4 linked regions of the Homo sapiens genome follow. Changing the gene in region 1 together with any one later gene gives a genetic interaction. Each region holds a gene or a part of one and is shown in the gene's direction. Other genes may lie near its edges.

Evidence for each region. A genetic interaction does not mean that the proteins touch.
Region 2: changes in SEC23IP (region 1) and SAR1A together harm fitness less than expected from each alone (positive genetic interaction), as found in Homo sapiens cells (one large-scale study listed by BioGRID).
Region 3: changes in SEC23IP (region 1) and PTAR1 are lethal when combined (synthetic lethality), as found in Homo sapiens cells (one study listed by BioGRID).
Region 4: changes in SEC23IP (region 1) and TRAPPC10 together harm fitness less than expected from each alone (positive genetic interaction), as found in Homo sapiens cells (one large-scale study listed by BioGRID).

The regions. Positions count from the first base shown.
Region 1 is NC_000010.11:119,937,730-119,941,229, forward strand, and holds part of SEC23IP (SEC23-interacting protein), read left to right. Parts: intron 1-2,856; 3' UTR 2,857-3,500. UniProt on the Homo sapiens protein: Plays a role in the organization of endoplasmic reticulum exit sites. Specifically binds to phosphatidylinositol 3-phosphate (PI(3)P), phosphatidylinositol 4-phosphate (PI(4)P) and phosphatidylinositol 5-phosphate (PI(5)P).
Region 2 is NC_000010.11:70,160,515-70,164,014, reverse strand, and holds part of SAR1A (small COPII coat GTPase SAR1A), read left to right. Parts: intron 1-1,255; exon of another isoform or gene 1,256-1,325; intron 1,326-2,083; 5' UTR 2,084-2,099; coding exon 2,100-2,157; intron 2,158-2,276; coding exon 2,277-2,396; intron 2,397-2,945; coding exon 2,946-3,011; intron 3,012-3,500. UniProt on the Homo sapiens protein: Small GTPase that cycles between an active GTP-bound and an inactive GDP-bound state and mainly functions in vesicle-mediated endoplasmic reticulum (ER) to Golgi transport.
Region 3 is NC_000009.12:69,753,512-69,757,011, reverse strand, and holds part of PTAR1 (protein prenyltransferase alpha subunit repeat-containing protein 1), read left to right. Parts: intron 1-3,500.
Region 4 is NC_000021.9:44,085,309-44,088,808, forward strand, and holds part of TRAPPC10 (trafficking protein particle complex subunit 10), read left to right. Parts: intron 1-1,493; coding exon 1,494-1,652; intron 1,653-2,390; coding exon 2,391-2,620; intron 2,621-3,500. UniProt on the Homo sapiens protein: Specific subunit of the TRAPP (transport protein particle) II complex, a highly conserved vesicle tethering complex that functions in late Golgi trafficking as a membrane tether.

The DNA.
Region 1 (3,500 bases):
GGCTTTGTAATTTAGAAGAGTAAGGTGTAGAGAACAATTTAACTTTTTTCTTACATAATCGTTTCTGTCTGTGCCATATATTGAATAATGTACCCTTTTGTCATTGGTTTGATATTTTTATCATATGCCAAATATTTTGCTGTTGTTTGACATTTTAATTAATATTTGTTTCCTAGGCTTTCTCATCTCTTCTGGTGATTTATTTGTCTATGATACTTCATTGATTTCAAGCCATTTATTTTCCACATTTTAACATATTTAAATTTGTAATGCATCTTAAAATCTGCTGTTGGGGCTGGTGCAGTGGCTCATACCTGTAATCCCAGCGCTGTGGGAGGATTACTTGAGCCCAGGAGTTTGAGACCAGCCTGGGCAACATAGTGAAACCTCGTCTCTTAAAAAAAAAAAAAAAAAAAATTTAAGTCAGCTGTTGCCTTAACGGAAGTTGAGTTCTTTCTGAGAAGCTGTGCATTCTCTTCTGCTGGTCACTGGGGGAGGGGCTTTACCAACTTGCCTCTGCTTAAGCTAATTTCTCTGCTTGGGATTTTTTAGGATGATGCTGGTAGTGTGATTTCAGCCCCCAAAATTTGCAGGGATGGGGTTGTCAGTTCAGATATTGGAGTTTTTGTTCCCTCTTTCCATTGTCAAGGAAGAGGTGCGCAGGCCTCTTTGCCATCCCTTCTGCATGTAGTTGCTTGCTTTTATCCCTCATTGAGACTATAGATGTTTAGTCCCCCACTTTTTGTGAGGGGTTCTCCTTTGAGACTCCCTTTCTGGGCATCTTTTTATGGTACATAACAGTGAAGTGTCACAATCAACAGTGTCTTAGATTTGGTGAAATATGGTGTTTTAATAATTGTAATTTTTTACATAATATCTGGCAGTAGAAGTTCTCAGTATACCATAGTCTTTGCAGTTATCCCGAATGAAGTTCGAAATAATTTAAGTTCCCCTGACGCTCTCTCCCCTAACAAAACAAAGCAAGACAAACAAAACCAAAAGAATAGTAATTCTAGGATTTTGCCATCACCTTATATGGAAAACTCAGAACCTTCTATTTCACATATGATTCGTTCACTATAATTGTTTTATTTACTTCTTCTTACACTTGGCTGTAAAATTTAGGCAAGAATTTAAGTTTCTAATACTATACTAATGTCATAAGATAATCCATTTAAAATGTTAACAATTATTCTATACATAGTTCATTCAAGCTTAGATCAGTTTTGCTGAATGGTTGTTTTATGTTCATGTCCTTTTAGACCTTTTTAGGATTGTTCTTTGAAAAGCCTCAAATTGGCCAGGTGTGGTGGCTTACACCTGTAATCTTAGCACTTTGGAGGCTGAGGCAGGCAGATCGCTTGAGCTCAGGAGTTCGAGACCAGCTTAGCAACATAGACAAGACATTACTTGTCTCTACTAAAAGTAAAAAAAAAAAAATCACTGGGGCATGATGGTGTGCACCTGTAGTCCCAGCAACTTGGGAGGCTGAGGTGGGAGGATTGCTGGAGTTCGGGAGATTGAGGCTGCAGTGAGCTGTGATCGTACCACTGCACTCCAGCCTGGATTATAGAGTGAGACCCTGTCTCAAAAATAAATAATTAAATAAAAAATAAAAAAGCCTCAAATTAACATGGCAGATAACTAACTTTATTTTTTATTAATATTTTAGCTGGTCACGGTGGCTCATGCCTGTAATCCCAGCACTTTGGGAGGCCAAGGCGGATCACAAGGTCAGGAGTTCGAGACCAGCCTGGCCAAATAGTGAAATCTTGTCTCTACTAAAAATACAAAAATTAGCCGGGCGTGGTAGCACACACCTGTAGTCCCAGCTACTTGGGAGGCTGAGGCAGGAGAATCTTTTGAACCTGGGAGACTGAGGGTGCAGTGAGCTGAGATCGTGCCATTGCACTCCTGCCTGGGCGACAGGGCGAGACTCTGTCTCAAAGAAAAAAAATAAAATAAAATATTTTAATTTTTTGAGAAGGGGTCTCACTCTGTCACCCAGCTTGTGTGAGTGCAGTGGCGCAATCTTGGCTCACTGCAACCTCTGACTCCCAGGCTCAAGCGATCCTCCTAACTTAGCATCTCGAGAGGCTGGGACCACAGGTGTGCACCACCACGTCTGGCTAATTTTTTTATTTTTTGGTAGAGACAGGGTTCCCCCAAGTTGCCCAGGCTGGTCTCGAACTTCTGAGCTGAGATGATCCACTTGCCTCGGCCTCCCACAGTGCTGGGATTACAGGCGTGAGCCACAACACTTGGCCATAACTAACTTTAAATTGTGTCTTTTACTCTCTGTACTGGCTTTGCTATGAAGAAATCATGCTGGTTAATCTTACTGAGTGTTTCCTGGGCATTCTTGTCCCTTTGGAAGGCCTGAGGACTTGCTTACAGGCTGTGCTCTTTGGAGGCGGTTTGCAGTGTTTGTCAGTAAAGTTGAGCACTGGATTGTCCATTTTTTTTTTTTTTTTTTGAGATGGAGTCTCACCCTGTCCCCAAGGCTGGAGTGCAGTGGCGTCATCTTGGCTCACTGCAAGCTCCGCCTCCCGTGTTCACACCATTCTCCTGCCTCAGCCTCCAGAGTAGCTGGGATTACAGGCACCCGCCACCATGCCCAGCTAATTTTTTGTATTTTCAGTAGAGATGGGGTTTCACCATGTTAGTCAGGATGGTCTCGATTTCCTGACCTTGTGATCTGCCCACCTCGGCCTCCCAAAGTGCTGAGATTACAGGCGTGAGACACCGTGCCTGGCCGATTGTCTGTTCTTTTACTTCAGAAAAGACAACGATGCATGGTATTTGACTGTAAATTTGTAAAGTTCACTGAGGTTTTTTTTTTTTTTCCTTTTTAAGACTTTCTTGTCTGCACAGAAAGTCCCAGTACAACTTCCATTGCTGAGAAAATCCTCAGAGGACTTTCCCACTTCGCTCCTGTGATGGATGACAGAAGAGTGATTCATTAACAATTGCTCAGCCACAATTCTCGGATATAGGGATTCAAAAGACAGGACACAGAACTAACACAGTGAAAAAAATCAGTACCACATTTGGACAGTATAGGTGAGAAAACATAATTATAAAAATGATGCCATGAAAAATTCCACAGATCAGTTTAGTTGTATAGTTGTCAAAGTTATATGTGATATCAATGAAGAAATATTTGTAGCATGTAAACGGTTATTTCTGTTTCTTAAAAAGTATTGTTAGTGGGCTATTAAACTTGGATTTTTCTTTTTATTAATGCAGTATGTTCTTTTTATTCAAGTATGAACTTGTTGAGAAACTATAGTAATATGATTTTTAAGAGATTTATGTTCTACTTAAAATGTGAATTGTACTTCTGAGCTGCCTTAATGCAAGGTCATTTATATTTGTTAAGAGGAAATAATCAAGATCACTCATATCCCAACTGAATCTGAGGTTTTATAAATCCCTCAAACGATTGCTGAGAGCCTGATTGTGGAAAGAAGTGAGATGCACCTTATTTTCAAGAAGTC
Region 2 (3,500 bases), about 50 Mb from region 1:
GTCATCACATGGTGAAGTTCTACACCACTAATATAGCCATTGCCATCCTTATCAAACACACAGAATGTTTCTCTAATTTCTTCTTCACTGTCTGTGTCTTTCATTTTTCTTGCCATCATTGTCAGAAATTCAGGGAAGTCAATTGTGCCATTACCATCAGCATCTACTTCATTAATCATGTCCTGTAACTCTGCTTCTGTGGGATTCTGCCTGAGACCTCATTACAGTTCCTAGTTTCTTTGTTGTTATAGTTCCATCACCATCTTTGTCAAATAGTGAAAAAACTTCTTTGAATTCTACAATCTGCTCCTCAGTCAGTTGGTCAGCCATGCTGCAAGTGCTACTGGTTTCCGAGACGCAACCACACAACCACTCTGCTCGCTCACTTGCTCCACTTGGACTGATTTAGTGTCATTCTTCAGGGCCCTAGGATTTTCAAAATGGTAAATGAGTATGGGTCCTAGGATTTTCAGAATGGTAAATGAGTATGGGTCCTAGGATTTTCAGAATGGTAAATGAATATTGGCCTCAACGTAAAGTCACCTTGCATTAGCCCATAACAAGAGAGTCAGCTTGCCCCTTGAAGCTTTGAAGCCAAGCAATGACATCTCCCCTCTAGCTATGAAAGTCCTAGATGGCTTTTCAAATAGAAGGCTGTTTTGCCTACATTGAAAATGTGTTGTTTAGTGTAGCCACCCACCTTCATCAGTTATCTTGCTGCAGCTTCTACATCAGCACTTGCTTTTTTACCTCGTGTTTTTATTTTATTATTATTTTTTATCAGCAATAAGGCTGTTTCATTTTCTTGACGTTCATGGGTTTGCTGGAGTAGCACTTTTAATTTTCTTCAAGAACTTTTCCTTTGCATTTGCAATTTGGGTAACTGTTGAGTGCAAGAGGCCTAGCTTCTGGCTTATCTCAGGTTTTGATGTGTCTTCGTCACTAAGCTTAATCATTTCTAACTTTTGCTTTCAAGGGAGAGACCTGTTACTTTCACTTGGAGAATAGGGAGGCTTGGGGTGGGGGCAGGACTGTGGAGGAAGTCAAGTTTGCTGTCTTCTATGGTTGTGGTTTGTGGCACAACAAAACAATTATACTAGTAATACCAAAGATCACTGATCATAGATCATGATGACAGATATAAGAATAATGAAAAAGTTTGAAATATTGTGTGAGAATTACCAAAATGTAACATAGAGACATGAAGGGAGCACATGCTGTTAGAAGATGGTACTGATACACTTACTCAACTCAGGGCTGCTTCCAACCTTCAATTTGTAAAAAAACCAGAAAACCTCAGGATCCACAAAGTATCATCAAATGAGGTATGCCTTTATATTTTTAACTCCTAGTTCTCTGAGTATCATAGATCAAAAACTATTAGGAAACAAGTTATTTTTGCACATATAAGGATTCTAGACTCTCCTCCAGATTGCAAAATCTGTGTCAAGAAAGAATATTAGTTTCTCTTTACTTTGCTTCCTCCCCTCCCCTTCCATCCCCTCCTCCCCTTCCCCTCCTCCCCTCCCCCTCCTCCCCTGCCCCGCCTCCCCTCCCCTCTCTTTTCTTTTCTTTTCCTTTCCTTTCCTTTCCCTTTCCCTTTCCCTTTCCCTTTCCTTTTCCCTTTCCCTTTCCCTTTCCCTTCCCTTTCCTTTCTCCTGTCCTGTCCTGTCTTTTTTATCAGAGTCTCCCTCTGTTGCCCAAGTGAGTGCAGTGGCACCGTCATGCCTCACTGCAGCCTCAAACCCCTGGGTTCAAGTAATTCTTCTGTCTCACCCTCCTGAGTAGCTGGGACTCTTGGTGTGTGTCATTATGTCCAGCTATTTTTTTAGTTATTTGTAGAGATTGAGTCCAGCTTTCTTGCCCAGGCCAGTTGTGAACTCCTGGGCTCAAGTGATCCGCCTGCCTTGGCTTTCCCAAATGCTGGGATTCCAGGTGTGAGCCACCATGCCTGGCCTGCTTTCTTATTCCCGAAAACAAGAGACTATAAATGTGCATCATGGCTAGGGAACAAGAGTTAACCTCTCCACAATTGTACTGTCATTCAGAAAGCTAATGTTTGCTACTTTCATATTTTATACAGGTAGTAAGCATTAATAATGTCTTTCATCTTTGAGTGGATCTACAATGGCTTCAGCAGTGTGCTCCAGTTCCTAGGTAAAGCCATTTCCTTGAAATACAGGTTTCAAAGTTTGTGCCTTTCCCTCAGTAATTTAACTACAAATAGGCTTTGGTCTGTAGAGAGCAAATGTGTTAACAATTTTTTTCTCTTTTAGGACTGTACAAGAAATCTGGAAAACTTGTATTCTTAGGTTTGGATAATGCAGGCAAAACCACTCTTCTTCACATGCTCAAAGATGACAGATTGGGCCAACATGTTCCAACACTACATCCGAGTAGGTTTGAAAATATCAGGTGACCTTTTGATCTTTAAAGGTCAGTGTTAGGCGTGGAGGATGAATCCCTAGTTGGTGGAGTTCTTTTATTAACTGAAGTCCCAAAAGCCAACTCATACGAGAAAGTTCCCTGTAAGACACACTCAGGTTATGTACTTTCAGATCTAAACCTCTGGAACTTTGTCATTATCTGTTGTCACTGGTCCTGTAAAGGGACACCTCTCCTATACCTACTTCTAAGAAGTGGAAAATAGCTTGGAAGAAAAGAAACCTTTGGCTTTTAGAATAGTTTAAGAACATTTCACCCTTGTATTCCTTTTCTTTGTTGGGAGTGGGGCGTTGCCTGGGCTGGTCTCAAAAATCCTGGGCTCAGATTATCCTCCTGCCCTCAGCCTCCTGAGTAGCTGGAACTACAGGCGGGTACCACCACACTCAACTTCTTGTATCTTTTTCTTTACAAGATGAAAGCATTGATATTGGCTTATAGTACTAGTAGTTGGGGGTTGTTGAGTTGACAAGTTTTTTTCTTCTTTTTAAACAATTTTTCAGCATCAGAAGAGCTAACAATTGCTGGAATGACCTTTACAACTTTTGATCTTGGTGGGCACGAGCAAGGTAAGTGATGACTCAGTGGAAAGCATGTTTATTGACTTATTTTTTTTGTGCCTCCCAGCTCCTTTTAAAAGCAGTGTGTCATTTTTACCTTTTAAATTACTTACATTTTAGAATTAGGATCTTATTACTTTAGTGAAGTTGTTTTATTCATTTATTTTTTTAAGTAATTTCAAACTTGTCAAAAGTTGCATTAAATAATACACAGAAGTCCCCTTCAATATTACCCTATTGAGCTGGGATAAAGTTAGCCATAATGTATAACTATTCATGAACTTTTAAGTATTTGCCTGATATAGCCAAACTCAACTCAAATCTTGACTGAAAATTTTTACAAAGCAGGACAGCATCTTGCCATTTTAATCTTTACTACATTTTTACTTATTAATGTAATTTACCTTGTAACTGGAAAATATGTTAAAAGATATATGTATTGCTTCAACAAGAGTAATTATTTCATCATTTTAACTAGGCTTGCCCTAAGCCAGTATA
Region 3 (3,500 bases), on another chromosome or scaffold:
TGTGCTGTTCCATATGGTAGCCACTAGCCATAGTAGCTATTGAGCAATTGAAGTGTCCCTAATATGAACAGGGACCACATTTTAAATTTTATTTAATTTAAATGGATTTGTACGTAGTGGCTCCATGTGCCTAGTGACTACTGTGATGCATAGTGCAGGTGTAGATGAGACCTAAGACTAACTGCATGAACAGTAAATTAACCCTCCAAAGTAGTTTATAGTAAAAGTTGGATAGGAGCATGATGAGCAAGTGCTATGGGAGTCTAATAGAAGTGGAGAGGAGGCTGGTTATGTCTCGGATAGGGGTGCTAGTGGAGGTGGGTTTTAAGCCAAGTATTAAAGTCTGGGTAGGATTTGTAGTCTCAGAGGGAGCCAGAGACCTCCACAGGGAGCAGTGAATTGACCTAAACAAGCAAAGTGTGGCTGAGAAGGTACAGTAGGGCCAGATTATGGAGATCCTTGACTCTCATTTAATTTCTTTCATTCCATTCATACATTCTGCAAAAGAGTACCTCCATTTGACAGGCACAATGCTGGTCTCTGGGTATACAGGGTTAAAAACTGGGTGGTTTAATGAACAAACCACACATGGTCCCTATCCTAATGGAACTTTAATCAGTCAACATACAGATTATGAAAAGAGTCATAAAAAGTAAGAAGGGTACTTAGAATAAAAACAGGGAGACCCAATTTAGATTATAAGGTCAAGAGGTTCTTTCTGAGGCAATAGCATTTAAACTGAGTGAGACATGAGGGGTGAAGAAAAGCTGGCTCAAGGATGTACACTTCTAAGGCAATGGGTAGGCACCAGTGAACATTTTTTAGTAAAGAATGATGAAAGGCAATTTTAGATCGTCTGCAAGGTGAACTGAAGAATAGAAAGCCAGAGTCTACTGGGCTTCTTATACCTGATTTTTATTTATTTAAATAATAGTGTAGTATAGTTGTAAAAATTTGAGTTTAGAGTTTGATAGTCTAAGCTGTCAAACTGGATTTGAGTCTTTGCTTGTCGTTTATTAACTGAGTAGACTTAGACAAGACTCTTCCTCTGTAAAATGGGGTCAAAATTCCTACTTTATGAGATTATTGTGCAGAATAAAATATATGTAAAACCTAACCGTGCATGGCAAGTAACAATAAACACTAGTAATTTGTGTAGCTTTTTCTAAATAAGGTCAGTAATATAATTTCAGTGAAACATAAGTTGATAATCTTTGGAATTAATGAGAAAGCCTATAAGGTTTCTGAAATATCTAAATCACCAGGAGAATTTTAATTATCAATATGCAACGGTCAGTTCCTTTAGATATATTTTACTAGCTTTCCTTTTTGGTCATGCTGGAAAGAATTCCAGTTCTTTTGGGGGGTGGGAGCAGAACAAAATGAAAATAACTACTATTTAGATTTAAAATGTTTTTACCATTTCCTGAATCCTTGGACTGTTTTCTGTTTGGTTGCTCCACACTATAGGATTCAGTTTGAGTATTTGGGTACCATCCATCCCTCCCAGAAGGTAAGCTGGTTGATGCAACTTTTGTGGATAATAAGTGGCTCTGTTCTGGTTGATGGTGTTTCTGAGAAGTATAGACAGAGAAGCTGTCTAAACATAAGGAACAAAGTCAGTATCAGTGTTACATGAACTGTGAACATCATCTGGAAGCCAATGAATGGATCCCTATTGTGAAGTGAGGCGCTCAAAGAGATGTATCATACTTTGATCTTAAGTAAATGTGCTGGTTCGTTCCACATTGCTCTGCCTTTGGAGCAGTCTGTGATGAAGGTGACCTAAAAAGTGAGCACCATTAGAACTTGATTGCTGTCCCAAACCATCATATCTTTAAAAATCCTATGATCTTCTTAGTTATGCAGGTAATTGAATACCTTGTTAAATACCAGGAATGTAAATGGCCAGAAACCTAACAGTGTAAAAGAGTGAAATTTATTAGTAGTTCCTCTCATAAGACTATTTTGTAAAGAAATAACTAGAGATATGTTTGATATTTATAGCACATTCATTGCAACCATTAAAAATATCAAAATTGATTATGTGGGAAAATGTTTAATGGGAATTGCTCAGTTTTTTTCCATAAAGGATTATAGAATATGTTCAATATGATCCCACTTTTTGAAAATACTCAGGAAAAAAGGATGTATACCCAGCTGGGCACAGTGACTCACACCTGTAATCCTAACACTTTGGGAGGCTCAGTGGGAGGATCACTTGAGGCCAGGAGTTTGAGACCAGCCTGGTCAACATAGTGGGACTACATCTCTACCAAAAAAAAAAAATATATATATATATATTAGCTGGGCATGGTGGTGCATACCTGTAGTCCCAGCTACTCAGGAGATCTGAGGTGAGAGGATTTCTTGAGCCCAGGAGTTGGAGGCTGCAGTGAGTGAGGATTGCACCACTTCACTCCAGCCTGGACGACAGAGCAAGATCCTGTCTCAGGAAAAAAAAAAAAAAAAAAAAAAAGATATATACCCAAACATGTTAATAGCAAAACAGGGATTACAAGTGACTTTTAGGGTTTTTTTTGTTTTGTTTTGTTTTTCCTGAGTTTTCCAGTGTTTCTTTAGTATGGAATTAGAACTTAAATTTCCAGAAAAATAGAAGGAATTGATCTAAATCCTGTTTTGCTCTTTGTTCTAGTGTCAGGGGTTTGGGGCTAAGTATTAGGAGGCCCAGATTCTTAACTTAGCCACTAGCAATATGACCTTAGATAATCCTCATAAACCTCACTGTACCTCAGTTTCCTCATCAGATGAAATGACAGAGGAATGCAGTCCCTTCCAACTTTAAAATGATTTTGGAAGGAATCCTATTCGAAATTGGCTAGAAAAAAGTGGACTGTGACTTAAGGGATGAGACACAGAAGTCTGAAGTCAAACACACTATTATTTGGAAGCTTACTGACCTACCTATGTTTACAAAGTATGTGTAATGTTTTTTAGAAAGCAGCATAACACTGTGTCTTAGGGTCACATAACTTGACAAAGGCTTAAATTCTTTGCCTCGGCTTTCCATTATTAACCAATGAACTCTACTGGTGGATCTTTGTCTAGCACTTCATAGTTTGCCACATTTTCACATGACATTATTTGGTTTCCATAACAGGCAGGGAAGATACTATTCCTGTGTTTCAGATGAGGATACTGATGGCAAGTGACTTGCCGAATTCTCATTGCCTGTCAGTGGATAGAATGGAAACTAACTAGAACTCTGGACTTCCAATCAAGTACTTTTGTCTTTACACCCTACTACCTCTTCATGTGTTTTTCCCCCTAGTGCTCTACATTATCTGTTAAGACTGTTTTTATTCTCCTCACATGAAAATAGCTGCTAGGTTTCTCAGTCATAAAATTTGAAAGCTGGGTGAAATCTATCCCATTTGCCTTACTGGAGGTATAATACAATTCTACCATTTTACAAATGAGGAAACTGAAGTCTACAGAAGCCAAAATGACCTGATACTGATATGTATGTATATGTGTGT
Region 4 (3,500 bases), on another chromosome or scaffold:
TTTTACAGTGTCACATTAGGCCAAGAAGCAGCTAATGTCTACCACAGGGTTTCATAAATATGTATATAATTTCCTGCTTAGAAGTACGTTTCAAATGCTAAACACTAGATTTAGTTAGGATCTATACTCAGATCCCAGCACTTTGGGAGGCCAAGGCTTTGAGACCAGCATGGGTAAGCCAGTCGGGGCAGGATGACAAAACCCCATCTCTGCAAAATAAAAAAATGAAGTAAATTAGCTGGGTGTAGTCGTGCGCCACGGCCTCTAGTCCTAGCTACAGGCTGGAGCCCCAGCTGAGGCTCCTGCCTCAGCCTCCTGAGCCCAGGAGTTTGAGGCCTCAGGGAGCTGTGATTGCGCCACTGTTCTCCAGCGTGGGTGACAGAACAAAACTCCATCTCTTAAAAAAAAAAAAAGTTTTCCTTTGAAAGGGTTGATTAAACTTGTCCGTCTGGCATGGCATTTGAGAAATTCAAAGCTATTGTCCTTTCTGATAAGTTCTAAAATTGGAAGGAGTTGCTATAAACAAATGATTGAAGAACATGTGGCAGCTGAACAAGAGTGAGTGAATGTCTCCTTTGTTCGGGCTAGCAACGATTTATTTATTTGCCTGTTTCTTCTACGTGGAAAAAAATCACAAAGGGCATTTTTCTGTTATTCCCCCATTCCCCCTATTTTTCTGCATTTGTGCCTCTTGTGTGGCCACCAGCAAAGGCTGTCAGATGTGGGACACAGCAGTCAGTCTCTCCAGTGATTCTTCCATTGGAACATTGTGTAGAGAAGCTGAACTCGATTCCCGCAGGGGAGCCGAAGCACCAGCCAGCAGGCCCTGCCCTCCCCATGGCCCAGCGGCTGCAGTGCCAGGCTCATGGCCTGGCTCCTGCTTCCTGCCTAGTGTCCCCTGTCTCTGTCCACTCTCCCCCCGGTCCTGGTATCTTGCCTGCCTTCTGTCTTCCCTGCAGCAGGATTCTCAGAGGCCTCAGCTCACTCCTGCCTCTCATTGCTGTCTTGGAGTGAGGGGGAGCCACCTGACTGCTGACTGTTCTTAACCCAAAAGCCCGTGGCCTGAAGCTGAAAAATCCAGAGAAGGTTTTGAATATTTGAGCAGCACCAGCACAGTCAAGTTTTCTTTACAGTCTCTTCTTAAGCCTCATTATGTGATTCTCTTCTACTACTAATGGGCAGGCAAATTTTGTGACCCTCAGAGACGTAGTCATGATCATAATCCCTGACTTGCTGAACCAAGATGGGTATAAGACTCCTTGACTCACAGGATTCTTTTTTCCCCAGCAAGGTTCTCCTTCAACCCTGTAGTCCACATCATTGAGATGAAAAGTTAGGGCAGAAGGGAATGGAAGTAGAAGGAATTCATGGAGATCCCAAAGGAGCAAATCTTTCATAGTAAAAGAAATAGAGCCCCTTTCACCCCATTGCGGGCCCTGAGATGCTGTCTTCCGGTTGGCAGCGGTGCTGAGCCACGATCTCTTTTCCTTTAGATAGCCTTCTGGCAGGCATTCCTCAGAGAGTCAAGTTCACTGTCACTACCGGCCATTATACGATAAAGAATGGAGACAGCCTGCAGCTTAGCAATGCCGAAGCCATGCTCATCCTGTGCCAGGCGGAGAGCAGGGCTGTGGTCTACTCCAACACGAGAGGTGAGGTGCCGCCCACCCAGGCCCAAGGAGGATGCCCACCTTGCCCTGCACTGTGTGGGTGTGAGGGTGAGCCTGGCCTTGCTGCCATCCTGCTGAGCGCCCCTCAACAGTGTCTGGAGTCCGTGTTCCATAGGAGCCCTGCGGCCTGATGCCTGTGCTGGGGTCCCATCTGAGGTGATAAACTGAGAGTGGTTCACACGCTGAGTGGCCGAGCAGTGCTTGTCTGGCTGAGGATTAGGAGATGGGGGTCACGGCTGGGGTCACGTTCCATGGTGATGCCTGCCAGACCCTGTCCCCCTTGGGCTGGCCCTGCTCCCGAGAAGCAAAAGCAGAGCAGCCCTTGCAGGTGCTGTTGAGAGCCCTGAGCACTCCCATCCTCCCAGCCACGAGGAAGGGGAAGGGGAGGACCCTGCTCCCCTGGGGTGGGGGTGGATCTGCGGATGAGCTGGAACGGGAGAAAGTCATGCAGGGACCTACACAGGACTTGGGTGGGCCCCGTGGGAAATGCCCTTTTCCTCTCTTCAGATTGAGATCAATGATGGGTCTGGGCGCCTGCCTGCCGGCTTTCACACAGGGCTGCTCTGTCCTAGGGGCCTTGTTCTTGGGTTTGCCTGCCAGGTGCGCAGGAGCGGGAGAGGTTGAGCAGTGGCCTCACTGCTGGGCCATCACCTGCTGTAAGGAAAAGGACAAGTGAAACCGAGGGAACAGCTTTGAAGTGACTTTTTCTGTCCTTCGTAGAACAGTCTTCTGAGGCCGCGCTCCGGATTCAGTCCTCCGACAAGGTCACGAGCATCAGTCTGCCTGTTGCGCCTGCGTACCACGTGATCGAATTTGAACTGGAAGTTCTCTCTTTACCTTCAGCCCCAGCACTCGGAGGGGAGAGTGACATGCTGGGGATGGCAGAGCCCCACAGGAAGCATAAGGACAAACAGAGAACTGGCCGCTGCATGGTTACCACAGACCACAAAGTGAGTAGGGACAGTGGAGGAGCTTAGCTTGTGGGGCGTCCGCCGCCCGCCTGCCTGCTGGGAAAGGCGATGTAGCGATGCCTGCTGTTAGCCTGGCTCCTTCTGATTCCCGATGCCCTGGGCATGTGTTTAGCAGTTCTGTCTGTCTGTGAATCACCCTTTCTTAGATAAGGGGTGCATTTTTTGCAAGGGCAGAGACAAGCCAGCTCTACCTTTCCCTCTCAGTTCCAGGGGCCAGGGAGTTTGCTGTAAGAGGTTAGGGCCGGCTTAGGCATGAGGGGCGTAAAACTTGGGTCATGTCCATTAGACCGGTGACGAGGCCAGAGGAGGTCTGTGTCGTGTGTGCCTCGGTGTCTGTCCACTGAAACTCATAAGCTCAGCCACGGAGGAGCTGTCTCATTTTAGGCTTTGGTGCTGGTACTTACTGACAGTTACTTGAGAAAGATGTGATTTCGGTCCCAGAGCCACAGGATATCAGCTCATGGAATGTGTCGCTGCATCATGTTACTCAGGGTGTGCCCAAGTCTCGTAGCCCAGAAATCAATCCTGAGGGCCCTGAAACAGCCCAGGGGCCGCAGTATACGCCCAAGAGCAGCGGGGGCAAAGGGCAAGGCATGCCGTCTTTCCAAAGCACGGAGTCACCAGACAAGTCCACGCCTGAAGACGAATGTTGTAATGTTCAGCTTTTGAAGAACCTGAGGAAGTGTCTTTCCCTTAACTCACACAGACGTTCACCATTCACGAAGGTGGCGCTTAGCTCAGCAGGAGCGCGCAGCACTGGTGGCACCTGTGCTATGTGCCGTGTTATCCCGCTCTTCCCTGGCGCTGGTGGCACCTGTGCTGTGTGCCGTGTTATCCCACTCTTCCCTGGCGCTGGCGG